Regions from separate parts of the Homo sapiens genome. Here region 2 is linked to region 1. A link means that fine-mapping ties the variant in region 1 to the expression of a gene that starts in the linked region. Tissue or cell type: transverse colon. Region 1 holds a variant in brackets; the other region holds the start of a gene. All regions are shown on one strand. Distances are between the middles of the regions.

Evidence for each region.
Region 2: RNF14 starts here. The variant in region 1 is fine-mapped to the expression of RNF14 in transverse colon (GTEx, PIP 0.97).

What each region holds. Positions count from the first base shown.
Region 1 is chr5:142,657,876-142,666,208 of GRCh38, reverse strand. The region is part of intron 1 of FGF1 (fibroblast growth factor 1); the gene reads left to right. Among named protein-coding and RNA genes, the nearest start is that of FGF1, 24 kb to the left of the region's middle. RefSeq lists enhancers at 5,265-5,765, 5,766-6,266. The variant C/T (reference allele first, on the strand shown) is at 4,434.
Region 2 is chr5:141,964,685-141,973,017 of GRCh38, reverse strand. RNF14 (ring finger protein 14) reads right to left here and starts at 3,913. Exons shown (of 9, transcript NM_004290.5): 1 at 3,851-3,913; 2 at 2,141-2,314. It overlaps LOC124901095 (a long non-coding RNA gene), which reads left to right and starts at 3,238. Exons shown (of 3, transcript XR_007058977.1): 1 at 3,238-3,410. RefSeq lists an enhancer at 3,731-3,880 and a silencer at 3,991-4,130.

The sequences.
Region 1 (8,333 bases):
AGGGCCATGATGCTGATACAGATTTCACCCTAATATAACAAGACCTTAAGGGTGAGCACTGGGTAAAGTTCAATCAAGTCTGAGAACTTTTCAGCAAGTGCCATACTAGAGTAGCTTGTGTTATGATGCAATTCCACTGGCAGTCAAAGTGGCAGGCAAAAGTCTGGGTTTTCCTGACCCTGGGTGGTGGAGCAGGCCAGTTATCAAAGGCAGGCTGTAGGAGCAGGGGGTCTCACCTTGAAAAAAGAAGGGTTTGCCAGAGAGCCAACCTAGGGGGAAGTCATTAGCTCCATCTTGAGTGCTCATGAGATGATGAGAAAGACTGGGGATCGAGAAAAGAACAGGCAACGCTTGACTACCTGTGGGCCTCTCCAGCCTCCCCAAAGGAAAAGCTTATTGGTTGTGCTTGAAGAGGAGAGCTACGTACCTGTGATCCTCTTAGGATCACTGTAGAACCTTCAGTGGGAAGGACCATGGGTTTCTGAAGATATGGGGAGGCTCTAAGTGTGTGAGCTATTAACGTTAAAAGCATGAAGCTTTATTGGTAGACAGGACTCAATGGGTAGAGATGAGAGGCTTTGAGGAGAACATATTGAGGTCACTGAGTGTTGAGGGAATTCCGGGAGGACAGAGGCAGCTAGCTGGATGCAGTGAGCCAGGGTGGGAGAGGAGACAGGAAGATGAAGAGACAGAGAAGCCTTGTTGGGGGGAGGTCCTGGGTCATTCATTGCTTGAGAAAATCCCAGCCAGAACCTGTGGCGACCTTTTCCAAGGAGGAGTGAGCCAGTACTTTTTCCAAGGTAAACAGCTCTAAAGTAATGTTTCCAGAAGGGGCCAAAGTCCTGAGGAGGGGAGTGGGACAGGGGGAGATGGAAAGCCCCACCCAGAACGGAGGATGGAAGGGCAAGGGGGTGGACGAGGGGCAGGGGTGAGGGGTGTGAGGTGAGATAGAGCACTTGTGTTGTCTTGAGGTTCCCAAGGTATCTCAGGAATATTTTTCTAAAGTAAAGTTTGTGAGTTTTGTTTTTTATTTTTTGAGATGAAGTCTTGCTATGTTGCCCAGGCTGATCTCAAACTCCTGGGCTCAAGCAATCCTCCACTTCAGCCTTCAGAGCAGCTGAGATTGCAGCACAAATAACACTTTTTATAAAATGTAATACTGTTACATAAGGCAATGTTACTGTTTTTCAATGTTACTGTTTAATAATTTGTTTTTATCATCCTCATTAACATTTATACAATGCAGCACTGTGTTAAGCACCTTACGTAACTTTACCTCATTTTATCCTCAAAATAACCCTATGAGTTTAGGTAATACTGTAATCTCCATTATAGAAAAGAGGAAACTGAGGTTCAGAGAGGTGACGTCACCTCGCCCACATCTTACTGCTGTTAGCAGCGGAGTCAAGACTTGTCCTCAGCTGGGCTGACTCCAGAGCCCAGGCTCCCATCCACCAGGAAAAAGACTCAACCAGCTTAGAAGAGGAAATCCCTGGACATCGACGGTGTCATGAATGAAACACAAGCAGAGCAATCACAAAACACCCCACTGCCACTTACTGGATGGCTACTTCCATATTTTATCAGATCTAAGATACAGTAAATTGGAAGTTAGACCGTCACTTCATGTACCATGAAGAAAAAGAATGTTGCACGGCCTGATTTTAGAGACGTTCAAATACTGAAAATATGTGCATCTGAGGCTTGATAAAATATTACAAGCGCCATACCATGCTAGGAGCGTTGCCTCCACGATCTAATTCGTCCCAAAGACAGCCCTTTTGTATCACCACTACATTTGCAGAGAATACAGGGCTTAGAGCAGTGGCGTCCGTGCCCATAGCCAGTGACACGGCGCTAGGGAGCCGCAGAGCCTAGATCTGTCCTTGGCAACTTCCTGGGCCCAAATCCCTGCCTTGCCTGACCCATCAGTGCACGCTGCCTGGGAGGTGGGGGGCGCCTTTGTTATTTGTTCCTTCAGGTGGGCAGCCAGCTTGGCAAACAGAAAACACAATGGAGCATCTAACTGCAGGAAAAAAGAACACTTTGCCTCCTTCCTCCCCCTGGGGCTCATCTGTGCTTGGGCTCACTTGGAACTGCTCACTCCCCCTGGACTTTAGGGGTGCTGGTTGTGAGGCCAGGTGACCCCTTCAGCAGGACCCTAGCAGCAGCTCTGGCCATTGATTTCCTAGTTCATAAGCCTCCATGGTATAGGCTCTTTCTTGGGCCCATCTCTTTCTTTTCCCGAGCTCCACTTGTGATTTGCGCCAGATTTGGAAGCATCATCCCTGACGCTGAACTTTATTCTTCCCACATCTTCCTTGCCTTCTCTCATCTCTCCAAGTGTCTTAACTCTTCAGCCTCACCCTGCCTCTTCGAAAGCCTTATTCATGTCTTAACCACTTCCTAGCTCTGTTCACATCAAATCGCTAATGGTTTTCTAGAATTCCTGCATGTTAAGATGGAAATCTGGGGCGAGAGAGGTGGAACGAAGAGGTTGTCTGTGTGGAAAAAAAAGTCAACTGGACAAGTTTCCTTGCTTTGATTTTTGACCCCAAGACCTCCCTCCTCCGCTGTGGGCTGTGTACGTATAAGCTGGCTTCTCTTGGTTTCTCAACTCGGGTCATCACGGAGTATCTTCTTGCCTTCTGTCTCGACCTCTTGGCTATCTTTCCAATAAGTTTCCATAGTGAAGAAGGCAGTTGTACTTAAATTAGATCTTCCCCATCTCTTTAAAACACCCTTGTTCTCTCTCCTCCAAGCCACTGAGTCATACTTTCCCATCTTCTCAAAGACTTCCCTGTCACTGGAGATGAGGGCTAGGACTTGGCACTTTCTCCTTTTCTGATTTTACTTCCTACTTCAACAAGAAATTAATATCACAACTTGAAAAGCCTTCCTAACTGGTAAAATCGTTCTGCTGGAAAAGCTCATTATCTTTTTTCTTTTTTTTTTTTTTCTTTCCTGATTAACCTGCTTCTCACCTATCCTCTGTCCTTCGGAATCTTTTTCTTTGTATGGCTGTCTCAACTCAGCCTAACTTTCTTTCAAAGCCCTGCTGAGAAGAACTTTAAAACATTTTGTATGCCAGGCACAGTTGTGCACGCCTGTAATCCCAGCACTTTGGGAGACTGAGGCAGGTGGATTGTTTAAGCCCAGGAGTTCCAGACCAGCCTGGGCAACACGGCAAGACCCCATCTCTACAACTACAAAAAAATGTATCTGGGCCTAGTGGCACGTGCCTGTGCTTCCAGCTGCTTGGGAGGCTGAGGTGGGAGGGTTGCTTGAGTGCAGGAGGTCGAGGCTATAATGAGCTGAGATTGTGCCACTGCACTCCAGCCTGGTGAGGGAGTGAGATGCTGTCTCAAAAAAAAAATTACAATTTTAATACTCTAAACCTTTACTGGATGTTAGATTTATTTATTTTCAGTATTTAATCAAAGTATGAAAAGTGCTACCTACAGGTTTCCTTTGTTCTAAGTTCCCCCAGGGCAAAGAGATGTCTGTTTCATTCACGCACTCCATACACAGAGGAGGCTGCAGAAAATATGTGCTGAATGAATGAATGAATGACCAGCAGTCATCACTGGGCTTTTGTGTCCATTTACAAAGTAAGCTCATGTAGGTATCCATTCATTCAACAAATATTTATTGAGACCCGACTGTGTGTCAAGCCTTGTGTTAAGCATGGTGGGTATAATAGTGACAACATCAACAAAAATCCTTCCCCTCTTGAAGTTTATCTTCTAATGGAAAATGACCATTCAAAAATCATTGAATTGGTGTCCACCTAATATTGAACTCTAATAAGCATGTTGGAGAAAGTCTCAAAATTACAGAAAGTTGAATTCACATTTGCTCCAAGAGAGCTAAGAAATTGGGAAAAAAGAGACACTATTAGTGAACGAGGTGAGAACATTTTTAACGGCTTGAGATATAATTCACAATTATACAGTTCGTCCGTTCAAAGTGTATAGTTCAATGGCTTTTCGTATATTCACAGTGTCATGCAACTACTGCCACTATCTAATCTCAGGACACATATGAATCAGCAGTCATTCCCCGCTTCCCCCTCCCTCAGCCCCGGGCACACCACTAATCTACGTTCTGTCTCTAGATATTTGCTTATTCCAGACATTTCATGTAAATGGAATCGTACAATATGTGGGTTTTTTTTTGTCTGTGTGTTTTTTGTTTTTTGTTTTTTTTGAGACGCAGTCTTGCTCTGTCGCCCAGGCTGGAGTGCAGTGTAATCTCGGCTCACTGCAACCTCCACCCCCTAGGTTCACGCCATTCTCCTGCCTCAGCCTCCCAAGTAGCTGAGACTACAGGCAACCGCCACCATGCCCTGCTAATTTTTTGTATTTTTAGTAGAGACGGGGTTTCATCGTGTTAGCCAGGATGGTCTCAATCTCCTGACCTCGTGATCTGCC[C/T]GCCTTGGCCTCCCAAAGTGCTGGGATAGTGAGCCACCGCGCCCGGCCAATATGTGGTCTTTTGTGACTGGCTTTTTAAACTTAATATAATGTGTTCAAGGTTCATCCACATTGTAGCATGTATCAGTACTGCATTCCTTTTTATGGTTGAATGTTTTGCATGGATATGCTACCTTTTGCTTATCCACTCATCATTTGTTGCTTTCCATTTTTGGCTTTATGAGTAACTCTGCTATGAAAATTAATGTACTCTTTTTTGCATGAATATGTTTTCATTTCTCTTAGTTGCATACTTAGGTGCTGGATTGTTGGGTCATATGGTAACGCTATGCTTAATTACTTGAGGGACTGTTTTCCAAAGTGGCTGCACCATTTTACATTCCCACCAGCAGTGTATGAGGGTTCCAATTTCCCCATATCCTCACCAACACTTGTTATTGGGTGCCTTTTTGATGAAAGCCAGCCTAGTGGGTGTGAAGTGATATTGCGCTTTTGATTTGCATTTCCCTGGTGGCAAATGGGGTTGAGCATCTTTTCAGGTGGAGATGAGAACATCTGCATCATGTTTGTGAGGCAGCTATTGATCTGGTGTCCAGCACAATGCCTGCATGTCACAGGTGCTCAATAATATTTGTTGAATGAATGTAAGAGTGGAGCAAAGAAAAGTACCTTGAAGGACAAGGCTTCTATTAGCTATGGCAAGCCTGCAAGAGGAATGGTGTATGATGGATAATATTTTGCAGATATGAAGCAATGCATTTTCCCCCTCTTACCACATATCCTGCCTTTAAACCATGTTCCATTTGGAGCCTCTCTTCTCAGAGCCTGGGCCAGGAGTCCTGTTGCCTGGAGCCAGAGAAGGAAGGAGGAACACAGAATAAAGAAGACAGCTGGCTCAACCACCAAGATTTGTGGAAAGATTTGCAAAATGGCTTTCACTCCATTGTAACATAGCAGGGGCTAGGCCTGGCAGATAGACTGTGGGATTTCTTTTACCATGGTAGGGGATGCCTGTCTGTCACTGGGCTATGGGGTATGGGGTTAGAAAAGAAGATATGGAGTGTGTGTCTTTGGCATTAAAAACTTGCTGATGAGCTGAGGAGAACACGGAAGGCAGGGCAGCCCTGCAGCATGGGGAGGCCTGCAGAGTTTGAGAGGCTGAATGGGTGTGATCAGAAGGCGAGTGGGTGTGCGTTACACTCCAGATTTCTGCTGCTCCTGCGTGATATAGATGCTGAGACGAGAGCCAGAGGCCATTGTGGGGTGACCCTGCAGCAGAGCGGGGGCAGACCTCCTGGGCAGGGAAGGAGAAACCCACAGCCAACAAGAGCTGGCCAGCCAAGGAGCCGCCCTGGGCCCTGACCCAGCCAAGAGAGACCAGCGGCCCCAACTTGAGTCATGAAGGCCAAAGGGTGGGCAGCCACAGGGCAGGCTGAAGGCTCCATGCTGGAGACCCTGTGCCGGGGGCCAACTCTTCCCTTCCAGTCAGAGGCTGAGTGGCTCCCACTCCTCCTAAAACCATGCCGCAGGGAGGGCGGCTAAAGACAGAGGAGCTGAAGGACAGAGCTTTACTAACAGGACTGTTTAATTCTCACCCCGGATGAGCGTGAAGATGGTTTTCAGCTGCCGCACAGTTGAGGCCTCGGGAAGAAGCCCAGAGAAGAGACAAATTAAGAGAAACCACAGTCATGTTGTGTGAGAAAACGTGTGACACTGCCCATGGCCTGTTTATGGACCGGTCAGCTCAGCAGTGAAATCGCCTGACGCAGGGCCTGCAAGACCAGAGATGCAGTCCCATTAGTGTTGCTGTGGCAGTGGCCACTTTCAGAGGCCTGCTCTGGAGTCAAAGAGCTTCTGATCTGAGCAAGAGAATTTCTCCCCTTCGACTAGAGAAACAGACCAAAGGGCATGTTCCCTGTCATCTTTGGCCGTGACTCTCTCAGAAGCATTTGGAGACATTTGGATGGGCCAGGCTGAGAAACATCACTCCCACAACAATGGCACCCCTCAGCTGTGTTCCAGGCTCTGGGCTAACTCTTCACATGTGTCACTGAATCCTCCCGCCAGCAACTCTCTGAAAGATTTTGTTATTCACATTTTATAGATAAAGCTATGAAGCCTGAGTGGTTTCCTGGGATCTGCTGTCAGGCAGCATTTGAATTCAGTGATGTAACTGCCTGTGCTGGGCACTTAACCACCGCTGACACTGCCTTTCATCATTCTGCTTCAAAGTTCCCCCTTAAAACTGATGCAAGGGCTGGGCGCAGTGGCTCACACCTGTAATACTTTGGGAGGCTGAAGTGGGTGGAATACGAGGTCAAGAGATTGAGACCATCCTGGCCAACATGGTGAAACCCTGTCTCTACTAAAAATACAAAAATTAGCTGGGTGTGGTGGTGGGTGCCTGTAATCCCAGCTACTCGGGAGGCTGAGGCAGGAGAATCGCTTGAACCCGGGAGGCAGAGGTTGTAGTGAGCTGAGATCACGCCACTGCACTCCAGCCTGGCGACAGAGCGAGACCCTGTCTCAAAAAAAAAAAAAAAACTGACGCAAGATCTGGTGAAGCATTTTATCAAAGAAAAATACAAAAAAAATTATTATCTTTTATTTGTAAAAAAAAAAATACATGCCTGTTTCACTATAACAAGGATGGCGACCATGGAACCAAAGTGATAAAGAACCTGAATGAGAGCTCATTTCAGACATTCTTCCCCCAACACACGCCAACACCAGCAAATGCAAGGCTTCAGCATTGTTGGTTATGTAATTGTTCTCCAAAGACATTATACCCAGCTCATCTCAGAGTGCATGCTTCCGCTTGCCTATCCATCCAGGTTTTCTTCTCACAATTACTGAGCCTACCACATGCCAGGCACTGGGGACTCAAGTGACCTGGCAGTTCCTCCCCTGGAAGAGTTCATGATCACGGCAGAAGCATCCCCAGAGCACCATGCACACAGGTACCAGGACGGCAACTCTCCGCAGCCTATACTTTCTCTTCCTTCAAATCTCAACTTAAATGTCACCTCTTCAAGGAGTCTTGCTAGTCGGTCTTACTCTATTTTTCTACCTCAGTTCCTTGATACCGAAGGAAATATCCTCCAAAACACAACTGACAATTTTTCTTTCTTTGTCCTTTAACTCGTGAGTGTGTGCGTGTGTGTGTCTGCTGCCTGTGAAGCCCCACTACAATGTGGTCCCATAAGGGCATGAGCCACACTCTCTTATTCACAAAGGTATCTCCAAGGCATGACACATCCTGGGTGCTTAGTTTGTTGATTGAATGAAAAAAAGTTGCAACCAGATAGTCAAGAGCCTTGAATGCCATGCTAAGAAGTTTGGCCTTTGGCCTTTAGGCAGTGAGAAATAACAGGAAATGTGATCAGGGGCAAGGCATGAACAGATCTGTGAATGGGAAGCCAAGGATGGCCATGTTGTGAATGAGGTAAGGGGAATAAGCTACAGAGAGAAAAACTAGAAGCAATTGCCATGGATAAGGCTTGAGAATTTGCTGGCCTGACCTGAGACACTGATGGAAGGAATATTTAAGAAATATTTAGGTAGAATCATTTGGAGATGCCTGTGGGAGTGAGGGAAAGGGAATATGACTAGGGCATATTAAGTGGCTTGGGCTATTTTGTAACCACTGCACTGTCATTAATTAAGCAAAGGCAATGGAAGAAGGAGAATGCAAGACGTCCACCGTGGGCTGTTATCTGCAGAATGTCCTGGAAGATTTCTTGGAGGTGATGGGAGCTTTGAATGCAAAGACCAGGGTGGAGGCACAGGGCAGGATTTGGGAGTCCTGGGTAGAATGTGAGGCAGACCAGCACTCCCAGAGAGCATATATGCATTTAAGACAGAACCACCTAGGACAGGCCCCTGAGGACACCACACTCC
Region 2 (8,333 bases), 690 kb after region 1:
CACAATTTGAAAATTTTCTTTGAAAAGGACAAATCACAAATTTACTTTGACTTGTCCACTGAACCTAGCAATGTGCCTGGTTCGCAAAAGTGGTCAAAGTATATTACACTCCTTTCTTAAGTTAATTTGCCAGGCGCGGTGGCTCGTGCCTGTAATCCCAACACTTTGGTAGGCCGAGGCGGGCAAATCACCTGCAGTCAGGAGTTCGAGACCAGCCTGGCCAACGTGGTGAAACCCCATCTCTACTAAAAATACAAAAATTAGCTGGGTGTGGTGGCTCACCCCTGTAATCCCAGCTACTCGGGAGGTTGAGGCAGGAGAACTGCTTGAACGTGGGAGGCAGAGGTTGCAGTGAGCTGAGATTGCACCATTGCACTCCAGCCTGGGCGACAGAGTCAGACTCTGTCTCAAAAAAACAAAAAAGTAAATTTTTTAAATCCACAGGAATCTTTAGGGCAAGTTTTCTTAGCTTCAGCTCTATTGACATTTTGAAGTAAATAATTGTTGTTGGAGAGCTGTGTTGTGCATTATAGAATCTTAACAGCATCCCCTGGCTTTTACCCACTAGATACCCAATAGTGGCCCGCTTCCACCCACAAGAGCTGTGACAACTGAAAATATCTAGCCAGGTGTGGTGGTGCTTGCCTGTGGTCCCAGCTACTTGGGGAGCTGACATGGGAGGATCACTTGAGCCTGGGAGGTCGAGGCTGCAGTGAGCCATGATAGCACCACTGCACTCCAGCCTGAGTGACAAAGTGGGACCCTGTCTCAAAAAAAAAAATATCTCCAAATAGCGCCAGGTCCTGGGGCAGGATGGGGGTTGGAGGCAAAATTGCTCCCAGGTGAGAAAACAGTGCTTGAGAATGTTACAGGCATAGATATTATGGAAGAAAATTAGATAACTGAGCAAGCAGCAAAATAATATTAAATTTTTGAAATAATAGATTTTGTCAAATCCAAGCAGTCACCAATTTAAAGATTCACCATTATGACTCAAGAATATTTAAAAGATAATAATTTTAAGAAAGATTTACCATTATTTTAGGTAATACTAAGAATTTAGCTACAAGGCCCAGGCACAGTGGCTCAAGTCTTTAATCCCAGCACTTTGGGAGACCAAGGCAGGCAGATCACTTGAGGCCAAGAGTTCAAGACTAGCCTGGCCAACACAGCAAAACCCCATCTCTACTAAAAATAAAAAAATTAGCCGGGCATTGTGGTACACGCATGTAATCCCAGCTACTCGGTGGCTGAGGCACGAGACTAGAGAATCACTAGAATCCAGGAGGCAGAGGTTGCAGTGAGCTGAGATTGCACCACTGCATTCCAGCCTGGGTGACAGAGACAGACTCTGTCTCCAAAAAAAAAAAAAAAAAAAAAAGGAAAGAAAGAAAGAAGAAAGAAAGGAAAGAAAGAAAGAAAGAAAGAAAGAAAGAAAGAAAGAAAGAAAGAAAAAGAAATTAGCTACAATTAAAGTATGAACTGGCTGGATATGGTGGCTCATGCCCGTAATCCCAGCACTTTGGGAGGCCAAGGCAGGAGGATCACTTGAGGCCAGCAGTTTGAGATCAGCCTTGGCAACATAGCAAGATCCTGTCTCTATAAAAAATTAGCCAGGTGTGGTGGTGTGTGCCTGTAGTCCCAGCTACTCAGGAGACTGTGGCAGGAGGATCGCTTGAGCCTTGGATGCTGAGGCTGCAGTGAGCCGTGTTTGCACCACTGCACTCCAGCCTGGGGGACAGAGCAAGACCTTGTCTCAAAAAATAAAGTATGAATCAATGTTTTTTAAAATAGCATCAACTGAAAGATACAGCAATTTCAGATAATTTAAATGTGAAAAAAATATGCAATGAGAATTTACAAAAATCATTTTAATAAAACAAAACTACCAGTCAATTAAAATATTGAACTACAATTGCATTTGCAAATATCCTCCCTCACAACTAAAATATTTTTAATTAAAATGTACATAAGTAAAAAGTTAGGATTTTTTACATTTTAAAAGGTCATACTATGAAATTAAAAATGATTTCATTTTCAAAAAACACTTTTTTTCTAGGAGATGTTAGTTCATGGCTCTGCTTAAGCTGCATCCCTATCTAAGACACAATTACATGTTCTACTTGAGGTCAGTTAGTACCTGTTAATAACAATCAGAAGAAAAGGATATTAACACCGCAGTCTGTATTTCAGCTCAGAGTGGAGTTCATGCAAATCCCATTTATTCTCTAACTGGTGGAGCTGAGACTGCTGAAGCTGGGTAAGAGGCCAAGATGTGGAACTCATACTACATATATTATGAAAATCCTGCCATCTGCAGAAAAGAAATACAAAAGATGGTGTTAGGACCCTCTCCAAATTAAAATTCTGAATTTCCATGATCACTGCTTAAGTCAAACATATCCTAACATATAGCCAATCCTAATCTACAAGTGCATGTTACTCTCCTAGGGCAGGCTAACTGAGCCATGTGGTTAAAGGAGTATTTGCATGTCCCCAGCAATGACTGAGGACTTTTTATCTGTCTGCCCTCAGCTATGGGAGGAGCTAAGGAGGAACACCAAGGTCATATGAAAGTACAGGACACCATGCCCCATAACAAACAATCTCTTCAGTTTGTTTTTTGTTTTGTTTTTTTCTCCTTTCCTCTTCTGCTTCTTGTATTCCTTCATTTGCCACTCCCCTCCAGTTTTTCCTCTCTTGTTCATGAATTAAGCCTGCCAGTGGCACTCAAGGTTAATTTTGGTAACAGAAAAATACTTAAACAAAACAAGAGTACACAAACACAAACTTTTAAGTTTTATTCTAAATGCTTTAGAGCTAGGCTTCTTCACTGGGGTGAGGGGAAAAGGGAGTGTGGTCTATAGATGGGCTACGGAGAATCCTATCAACACCCTAAAATTATATGCAAAAATACTATATACAAAACCATAATTAAAAACCAGATTCTCGGATGTGTAACTCCCAAATGAGATAAGAATGAGATTCAGAATCAATTTACATTAATTGAGCACCTACTATGTACTGTATTAGGTCCTTTCACATTGTCTTATTTTACTAGGTGGGAGTATATGGTGCTAATTGAATTAAGCTTTTTGTTTCTTCCTGTTAAAACATTTGCAAATGGGATGAGAGATTCATTCATGCAGTTTATGGTTTTAGGTTAGTGTTCTCCATCTGACTGCACATTAGAATCTTCTGAGGAGCTGTTTTTTAAAATCTCAATACCCAGGCCACACCCTAGAACAATTAATTCAGGCCTCAGTAGTTTTCCAAGTTCTCCAGGTGATTCCAATATGCAGCCAGGGCTAAGAACTTCTACTCCAAGCAGTTTCAACAGTTCCTCATGACCTACCCTACAAGATTTCAGCTTGTGAAGCTGTCACTTGGAATCCAGTACCTCAATTCAGGTTGCTAACCCCCATTTCCTTCTCACTCTATCCATTTGGTCTTCGGGTGTCCTAGTCTGGGTTCAGCTCGCCACTAGGCGTGCGGCGTCGTTTGGGCGACTGCCCCAAAACAGGGGCAGGCCCAACGCTAGCTATCCGCCCCAACGCTGGGATCAGAGGGCGCAATGCGGATGTGTGAGCTGCTGGCCAGCCTGGGGCGTCCCGAAGGAGCAGGGCCCACACCTTCCCCTTCCTCCTCAGCGTCCCGAAGGGAGTCCCGGCCAGCCGAGCTGCGGACGCCCGGTCCCGGATTTGAGGGACTGAGGCCCAGTGTACAGTCCCAGCCCGGTCCCCTTCTCTGCCTCGCGCGCCCAGAGAGCTATCCCCACCGTACCTTCCGGCCGCCCGGCAGTGCCGAACCCCAAAGTTCCGCCCTCCGCCCTTGCCTGGGGCCCACTCACCGCCGCCAGCCGACCAGGCCTAGAGACGCCCTGCTCAACCGGCGCGCCGCCTCTTCCGTTCTCGGGAGCTGTCAGCTGAGCCAGGCGGATCCCGCTGGCGCGACCGCCGGCATAGGGAGGACTCTGCGCAGCCGCCGTGGTCGCCCCTGCCTCTCGGGCGCCTCCCGCAGGCCCAAGGCGGCGCTGCCGGCGCGACCACCGTCACCCCCACTTACTGCGAGCCCTGTGCTCACAGGAGGCTCTTTTCAGTAGTTCTGATGGGGCCCGAGAATTCGAATTTTTACCAATCTCTAGAGGGGATCATGAGGCAGTGGTCTACCTAGGGCAGAGACTCTCACAACAATCCCAGACCTGCTTCTCCAAGTGGACTAAGCAAGCCTACTTCCTCCCGTTTACCTTCTCAGAAATGCTGCCGGTCTTTCTGGCACTCCACTGTGGAAGCACGCATTCATCGCTCATGTTATAACTGTAACACCGACCGCATTTATCGAGTAGTTAGGATGCTTCAAGCAGTGTGATAAATGCTCTACGTAAATTTTCTATCTTCACTGTAATCTTATGATTTAGCTACCATTTGTTATTCTCACTTTACAAATAAGGAAATTGAGACTTAGGTGCAAGAACTTACCAAGGGTCACATGATTATCGTCAGGCTAAGCAGGAATTAAAATTATACACTTCCTTCCTCACACCATATGCAAAAATTAACTAAATATGGATCAACGACCTAAATGTAAGAACTAAAACTATAAAACCCTTAGAAGGCCGGGTGCGGTGGCTCACGCCTGTAATCCTAGCACTTTGGGAAGCCGAGGCGGGTGGATCACGAGGTCAGGAGATCGAGACCAGCCTGACCAACATGGTGAAACCCCGTCTCTACTAAAAATACAAAAAATAAGCCGGGCATGGTGGCGGGCACCTGTAGTCCCAGCTACTAGGGAGGCTGAGGCAGGAGAATCATTTGAACCCAGGAGACAGAGGTTACAGTGAGTCACTGCACTCCAGCCTAGGTAACAGCGAGACTCCGTCTCAAAAAAAAAAAAAAAAAAGTCAAACACAAAAAGCCATATATTGTTTTTAATTTATATGAAATGTCCAGAATAGGCAAATCCATAGAGACAAAAAGTAGTTTAGTGGTTGCCAGAAACTAAGGCAGGAGGGAATGGGAAGTGACTGCTAATAGATACCGCTAATAGATATGGTGTTTCTTGGGTGATGAAAATATTGTGGAATTAGAGAGCAGTGATAGTTGTATAACTTTGTGAGTGTACTAGAAACCACTGGATTGTATACTTTTGAAGAGTTAATTTTATTGCATGTGAATTATGTCTTAATTAAAAAATTTTTTTAGGTACAAAGCACCGTTCTCAGCGCTTAAGTGGAATACAGAAATGTTGGCTCCTTCTCCTGGGACCCATCAAACTAATGTGCTCCTCACAATCTAATAAGCTCCTGTGTCCGCTTTTTCATATATTTCTTCCTCCAAAAGAGTAACTTGCAGAGCTAAGACTCTAACCCAAGCCTACAGGATTCTAAAGCTTTTACCACCATTGCCTCCCGGGCAGGATTAGATTCATGGGCCAGCAACCCGTGCAGTCACATAGGGCCCTGCACTTAGAAGGGCCCCAGATTTAGAAGTGGCCTGCTCTTAAGAATGATACAATGGACTTTGGGGACTTAGGGGGAAGGATGAGAGGGGGACGAAGGATAAAAGACTACAAATAGGGTGCAGTGTATACTACTCGAGTGATGAGTGCACCAAAATCTCACAAATCACCATTAAAGAACTTACTCATGTAATCAAATACCACCTGTACCCCAATAACTTATGGAAAAATTAAAATAAAAAAGAAGTGCCCTGCTCTTGATTTGATGCTGTGCTCTCACCCTCTTGAAGTTCTTAATAATTTCTGAATGAGAGGCTGCATTTTTATTTTGCCCTGGGCTTTGTAAATTATGTAGTTGGTCTTATACCCAGGAGAGAGAAAAAAACCAAGTGAGTAAATCAGGGCACCCAAGGGATTACCTGGCTGCCACAGAAAGAACCTTGAAATAGAAATAATCACTTCTAATTTTCTGTACTATAAATCTTGATTGTCACAAAACAGAAACCAAAATACCCTTCTAATAGATACCAAAACCAGAAACATATCTCGGAAAAATGCAAAGGACGGAAGAAGAATCTCCAAAGCCATTCATTAATATAATTATTCATGTTTAGCCAAAGGAATTAGACCAAGAGCAAAACACACAGCAACCCTACCTCAGAGTGCTCAGAGAGGGGAGACCAGAGACCTCTTCGTGAGGAAAAAAGTGAGGAAGCCCATGCACCAACCAGCTTGGGAAATCCTCACAAAGTCAGAGCAGAAGGTGAATTGTGACATCATGTCAGAGGTCACAGGATAGAGAGAATAGAAAGAGAATTTCAAAGCAGTGTTAATAATTTACTGAATGTTTAAAGTGAACTAAAGATTTAGAGTCAATTTTGAGGACAAGATTGGGTAAAGACAGCCTTCTAATAAGTTTTGTTTTTGACTCTAGGAAAATAACAGACTTTTGTGTCTTTGGTCTCATGTGCCTGGTTAGTCTTTTAAACTGCAGTCTCCCCGTGTGCCTAGCCCTCCACTGTGCTAAATATTTCACGTACATTCTCTCATTTAAATGCCCAGGACCCTATGACTTAGGTAATTTTATGTGCCCACTTGACAGAAGAGAAAACTGAGGCACTAAGATTTGTTTTTTTAATAAGGCCTTTTATATTTACACAATTACTATTTATGACATTTTTATTTATTTTTAATATAAAAAGATGTAATAAAAGACAGCAATGTCATAAAGTTGAAGTCAGGTGTATTATACTTTGGGGTTTTGTTTTGTTTTTGAGACCGAGTCTCACTCTGTCACCCAGGCTAGAGTGCAGTGGCACAATCTCAGCTCACGGCAACCTCTGCCTCCCGGTAGAGGGTTCAAGCGATTCTCGTGCCTCAGCCTCCTGAGTAGCTGGGATTCCAGGTGCACACCACCACATCTGGCTAATTTTTGTATTTTTAGTAGGGATGGGGTTTCACCATGTTGCCCAGGCTGGTCTTGAACTCCTGGGCTCAAGTGATCCACCCGCTTTGGCTTCCCAAAGTGCCGCGACTACAGATGTGAGCCACGGCGCCTGGGCCACTTTTTTTTTTTTTTTTTAACTTTTAAGTTCATGGGTACATGTGCAGGTTTGTTATGTAGGTAAACTCGTGTCACGGGGGTTTGTTGTACAGATTATTTCGTCACCCAGTGACGAAATATTAAGTCTAGTACTTTTTATTCTTCCTGATCCTCTCCCTCCTCTCATCCTCTCATCCTCTACCCTGTAGTAGGTAGGCCCCAGTGTGTGTTGTTCCCCACTTTGTGACCATGTGTTCTCATCATTTAGCTTCCACTTACAAGTGAGAATATGTGGTATTTGGTTTTCTGTTCCTGTGCTAGTTTGCTAAAGATGATGGAGGCACTAAGGTTTGGCCAGTATCACACAGTGGTGGAGCCAGGGTTAGAGCCGATTCCTCATCAGTCTGACTCTCTCCAGGAGCCTGTCAGAGAATAAGGGTTTTTTGTAACAAATTCACAGAGAGTAAAATAGTTCTGGCCTTAAGAACTAAACGGGAAGGCCCTGGGGAAGTTAGGATTCGAGTTTATGACTTAAGGATAGGTGAGAATGAGAACACAGACAGAGAAAGAGACCCAACTCCCACCCCCTGTCCCCAGGGACACCGGATGATGACGGAGCCTAGGGAGAGGAGAGGTTACAGTGTACCACCTAGACCAGAGGTCGGGACCCAGGCCACGGAGTGGAGAGTAGAAGTGAGTCACAAACTATGGCTTGTCACTATAGGGGTTAGCAGACCTGACGGTGCCTGCATTTGTTCCCATCCATCACTGGCATCTGGTAGCTGTCCCGAAACTTTGCTGAACTCATCCCACCATCCCAGGGGGGACTGCCTCCTTTTCCATGGCCACCACTCGCAAGCACTCCTGCAACAAGCCCTTGAACACAGAGGGGCAGCAGTGTGGAGAGGAAAACCCTGCCCAACTTTTGGATAAAACTGAACCTTAATGAGCCCTACCCCAGTACAGAAGTGTCCCTGACTTCTTGCTGGTCTCTTGTCATTGTGTATTTGCTCATCATGTAGATCTTAAAAGTCTATTATCATGTGGGCCTCTGAAACATTGTTTTTTTTTAAAAAAAATTAGAGGTTTCAGGCCAGGCGTGGTGGCTCATGCCTGTTATCCCAGCCCTTTGGGAGGCCGAGGCAGGTGGACCACCTGAGATCAGGAGTTTGAGACCAGCCTGGCCAATGTGGTGAAACCCTGCTTCTACTAAAAATACAAAAAAAAAAAAAAAAAATTAGCCGGGCTTGGTGGCGGGCACCTGTAATCCCAGCTACTCGGGAGGCCGAGACAGGAGAATCACTTGAACCCAAGAGGCAGAGGTTGCGGTGAG